Linked DNA regions of Homo sapiens: region 2 is linked to region 1. The links come from fine-mapping of genetic effects on gene expression. Tissue or cell type: whole blood. Region 1 holds a variant in brackets; the other region holds the start of a gene. All regions are shown on one strand. Distances are from middle to middle.

What was found. PIP is the estimated chance that this variant, and not a neighbour inherited with it, causes the effect.
Region 2: it holds the start of DCAF4L1, and the variant in region 1 is fine-mapped to the expression of DCAF4L1 in whole blood (INTERVAL, PIP above 0.99).

What each region holds. Positions count from the first base shown.
Region 1 is chr4:41,910,576-41,913,259 of GRCh38, reverse strand. It overlaps LOC105374426 (a long non-coding RNA gene), which reads left to right. Exons shown (of 3, transcript NR_188374.1): 3 at 1,762-2,684. Among named protein-coding and RNA genes, the nearest start is that of TMEM33, 24 kb to the left of the region's middle. RefSeq lists an enhancer at 1-375. The variant T/C (reference allele first, on the strand shown) is at 1,416.
Region 2 is chr4:41,980,378-41,983,061 of GRCh38, reverse strand. DCAF4L1 (DDB1 and CUL4 associated factor 4 like 1) reads right to left here and starts at 1,306. Exons shown (of 1, transcript NM_001029955.4): 1 at 1-1,306. The coding sequence starts at 1,269. The coding sequence ends at 79. RefSeq lists enhancers at 44-816, 376-1,575.

The DNA.
Region 1 (2,684 bases):
TTCTTGTAAAATGCAGCTTTAATACATTTCAGGAAAAGCAAGGTGATTTCAGATATAATTATTCTGCTATTGAATATTTAGCTATATCTTCTTTTATCTCATGAAGAAATATATCCAGGCAAATTAAAACTTTTTTCCAACTTTTATTCAGATTTTGATTTGGTGAGCAGGAGCCAGCTAGGCCAAGAGCATATGAACTTGACATGGATTTCTGATGAATAATGTTTCTGCCAAATCTATCTCCTAATTACCCATCTACAGAACTAGGGTGGGCAGAATGGCCTCTTGACAGACCACATTATTTTATTTGTGTTTATGAATGTCGTATGTTAGCACCAGTATTAGGCCGTTCTTGCATTGCTAGAAAGAAATACCTGAGACTGGGTAACTTATAAGAAAAGAGGTTTAATTGGCTCACAGTTCTGCAGGCTGTACAGGAAACAGTGCTGGCATCTGCTTCTGGGGAGGCCTCAGGAAGCTCTTACTCATGGCAGAAGGTGAAGTCGGAGCCGGCACTTCACATGGTGAGAGCAGGAACAAGATGGGGGTGGTGCCACACACATAAACAATCAGATCTCGTGAGAACTCACTCACTATCAGGAGGATAGCACCATGAGGGATTGACCCTCCTGACCCACCAGGCCCTACCTCCAACCAGGCCCAACTTCCAGCACTGGGGATTACAATTCAACTTGGGACTTGGTGGGGACATATATTCAAACCATATCTGCACCAATTCCTTTAATGTATATGTTTATAGTTTGGTTTTCACTTTTGGATGAAAGGAAAGAAATATCTATGTTTTCTCTTAACATTCTAAATAGAAGTGTCCTTCCTTGTAGATAATGACAAAATTGTTCTATTGTCATGAATCAGACAAAGCATTACACGACAAAGTTTCCAATGTCAGCAAGGTGAGGAAATTTTCATTAACTGTGGAAAAAAAAAAAAAGAAAATAATCTGAGGCACTGGTTTTCTAATTTTTAAGTGTTCAATGTTAAGCGAACCTACGCAGTAGGTCAATTTGTTTACATAACCCAGAGGAGTGCTTTGTGGTTAATTCATGTGGTAGGTCCCTAATTATATTGAAGATTATATCCCTAACACCCACCGCAGAGCTGGGCAGGTCATATGCATCCATGAATATTTGCTGAATTGAATTAAAGATGGCCATGTAGAAGCCTGTAGTGTATGGGGCTGTGTCAGAGGGAGAGTAGATGCTGGAGAAGATAGGGGAGTAAAAATTGGGCAAGGAGTGCTCAGCTCAGAATGGCAAGAGTCCTGGAGACATCCGCGCAAAATGCTGAGATGAGTTTAAAGGTCTCTCAGCAATTCTATACTTCAAAATACATACTATGAGCCAGGCGCAGTGGCTCACACCTGTAATCCCAGCACTTTGGGAGGCCGAGGCAGG[T/C]GGGTCACTTGAGGTCAGAAGTTCGAGACCAGCCTGTTCAACATGGTGAAACCCCATTTCTACCAAAAAATACAAAAATTAGTCAGGCATGGTGGCACACGCCTGTAATCCCAGCTACTTGGGAGGCTGGGGCAGGAGAATCGCTTGAACCTGGGAGGCAGAGGTTGCAGTGAGCTGCGATCACACCACGTACAACAGCCTGGGTGAAAGGATGAGAATTCGTCTCAAAAAAAAAAAAAAAGAAAGAAAATAAAATATACTATGTAGTAATAAGAAAGCCATTCCTAGTCAATAGAGTGGGCTTAAAAATCTTTAGTATTAAAACATTGTGTGTTTTATTTTGCAGATACAAAGGAAGTTTTTCTCGGCCTGGTCTTGACTTAACAGTGACTTTAGTACTATCCTGTTCAGACACCTCAAGTCTTCAGAAGAAAGCAGATGATGTGAAAGTATATCTAGGTCCCCAAGAGAGATGCAAATTACCAGCTGTATTCCCTCATGTCAGGAAAAAGAGGGTCCCATATATTTCTTGTCTAATACAAAATCGCAGAAGGCTGAAACACATTAACTAGAAAAGAGAATGCAATTTGGATTCAACTACCTGCTGTCATGAAAGGTAACAGTAGTTAATAATGTTTGCAATTCATGGGATGTTAGAGATAAAAGAGTCCTCAAATATCCTCCAGCAAAATCTCTCTCCTTTTACAAATGGACAAACTAAGGACAAGAGAAGAAAGATGAGTCAAGCCTTCAGTCTTATGCTGTGATCTGATGGTGAGCTATAAAATCACTGTCAAGAGAGCCCTTCCAACCACCTGTGCTCCTGGAATTCATGAGGGAAACACATTCCTAAAACAAAACTAGCAACATCAAGATATTACCAAATGCTAGGCCGGGCGCTGTGGCTCATGCCTGTAATCCCAGCAGTTTGGGAGGCCGAGGCGTGTGGATCATGAGGTCAGGAGATCGAGACCATGGCGAAACCCCGTCTCTACTGAAAATACAAAAATTAGCTGGGTGTGGTGGCGGGTGCCCATAGTCCCAGCTACTCGGGAGGCTGAGGCAGGAGAATGCCGTGAACCCGGGAGGCGGAGCTTGCAGTGAGCCGAGATCGCACCACTGCACTCCAGCCTGGGTGACAGAGCAAGACTCTGTCTCAAAAAAAAAAAAAAAAAAAAAAGAAATTACCAAATGCTCTTTTTCCACTCTTATTCTTCAATCTCCAGTAATTTAGCACTCTGTTAACTATATTATAATCTAAAAAGTTCA
Region 2 (2,684 bases), 70 kb before region 1:
CTCTCACAGAAACGGTAATAAGATACTCTTAACTTCCTTAAGTCAAATCCACATTCGGCCGCGCTGCCACCTGCAGAATTAGCTGAAGGGGAAACAATAAAGGTCCTGCCGGACAGCCATGAGCAGCCCTGGTGCTGCTCCCCGGATGCCCCCGAGCCGAGAAGCGAAGGCCACGCTGGGAATGTCGTCCTCGGAGGCAGAGTACGGGGAAGGGATGGTTCTGAGCAGGTGGGCATCATGGAGGCTCCAGATTCTCGTGTAGCAGTCCTGGCCCACTGCCACCACGATTCCCTCTTCCTCGTGCACATGCAGGGGCAGATAGGCGGACTCATTCACGTGACCTTCGTACTGCCTTACACATTTAGTGGCCCTCAGATCCCACAGCTTGATCTTTCCAGTCATGTCTGATGCCATCAGGCATTGCTCTTCTTGGAGGATTTGCACAGAGGTCACTGCTGAGTCATGGAACAGGCGAGTGGCCCTCCACCCCTTGCCTCGATTTCTACAACGCAGATCAATGGCAAAGATCTCCCCGGAGCGACAGCCATTAAACAGCAAAGGAGCCGTACTAGCAAACTGCTGGGCCAAGACATCACTGCTGGTATCAAATGACTGCTGGTGTCCCGTCGCCACGCTGGTCAACAGGACCTGCTGAGACAAGCCTGCACTAAAGCAGTGATATGCCCGGGTGTTGAGGGACCACGCACAGGACCAGGCCTCTGGGATCTGGAAACTGCAGAGCATGCCAGGCTGGTTAACTCTTGTGTGAACACTTAAGAACCGCGACGCTGGGAGCAGCACTGCACAGCTTGGAGCATCTGTGATTCCCTCGAAGCACAGCAGAACGTGAGAGTCCAACTGGTTCAGCGAGGCCCAGCACAGGGACTTCACCTTCCGGTTGGGGACGTAGAGGTTTCTGAGCACGTACACGTGGAACGAAGGGATCTTCAGAGTTCGCAGGCTGATGATGCCGTACTTGGAGCCTTCGACTTCGACCTGGTTCACTACGAAGAGCTGGTCGCTGTTGGTACTCGCCAGAATGAAGTTAAATCGGTCGCTCGCCAAAGAGGAGGGATCCAAGCTCCGAATTTGGACCTTTTTCCGCTCCATGCAGCTCACACGCAGCTCGTTGGCTAAACGGGAGTAACTGGTGACGTTGAGGAAACCTAGCTGGCTTTTTCGGAGCATGGAAGATGCATTAAATCCCATTCTGGCTACCTTTTTCAGCTTGGCCTCTTCCTCGAGGAGTCGCAGCCTTTCAGCCTCCATTTCCTCCTGCGGAATGTTCCTCGTGACAGGAAATTCTGCAGGATGTTCTTCTCCGTGACAGGATGTTCTTTTCCGTGACAGGAAGTTCCGTCCGGGTGCAAGCGGAAGTGTTGCTACTTTTTATCCTCTCTATTCTAGGAGGAAGTCCATTGTTACAGATGTGTATTACAAATCTCTTTTCCTACTCTGTGGGTTGTCGTATTCTCTCAGTGGTGTCTTGATGAAAGGAAGTTCTTGATGTTAAATTTTTTCCTTTCTCTTTTTGAGACAGGGTCTTGCTCTTTCACCCAGGCTGGAGTCCAGTGGCACGACCACGGCTCACTGCAGCCTGGAACTCCTGGGCTCAAGTGATTCTCCTACCTCTGCCCTACTTAGCTGGGACTATGGGCTCACAACACCATGCCAGGCTACTTTTTTTGTAAAGATGGGGTCTCCCTGCTTTGCCGATGCTAGTCTGGAACTCTTGAGCTCAAGCAGCCTGTCCGCCTCAGCCTCCCAAAGTGCTGGGATTACAAGCATGAGCCCACGCGCCCTGCCTGTATTTCTTATTTTTTTATTTTTTATTTTAAGACGGAGTCTCGCTCTGTCGGCCAGGCTGGAGTACAGTGGCGCGATCTCGGTTCACTGCAAGCTCTGCCTCCCACGTTCACGCCATTCTCCTGCCTCAGCCTCCCAAGTGGCTGGGACTACAGGCGCCCGCCACCACGCCTGGCTAATTTTTTTTGTATTTTTAGTAGAGACAGGGTTTCACCGTGTTAGCCAGATGGTCTCGATCTGCTGACCTCATGATCGGCCCGCCTCAGCCTCCTAAAGTTCCGGGATTACAAGCGTGAGCCACTGCGCCCGGCCGCCTGTATTTTTAAAATACAGTTAGAGACCAGCCTGGGCGGCATGGTGAAACTTTGTCTCTAAAAAAATACAAAGATTAGGCCGGGCGCAGTGGCTCACGCCTGTAATCCCAGCACTTTGGGAGGCGCAGGCAGGCGGATCACGAGGTCAAGAGATTGAGACCATCCCGGCTAACACGGTGAAACCCCGTCTCTACCAACAATTAAAAAAATTAGCCGGGCATCGTGGCGGGCGCCTGTAGACCCAGCTACTCTGGAGGCTGAGGCAAGAGAATGGCGTGAACCCGGGAGGCGGAGCTTGCAGTGAGCCGAGATCGCGCCACTGCATTCTAGCCTGGGCAACAGAGCAAGACTCTGTCTCAAAAAATAAATAAATAAATAAAATACAAAAATTAGCGGGGTATGGTGCACACCTGTAGACCCAGCTACTCAGGAGACTGGGAGGGAAAATCACTTGAGCCTAGGAGTCTTGGAGGGAAAATCACCTGAGCCCTGAAAGTTGAGGCTGCAGTGATCACCCCACTGCACTCCAGCCCAGCTGGGAGACAGAATAAGACCCTGTCTCAA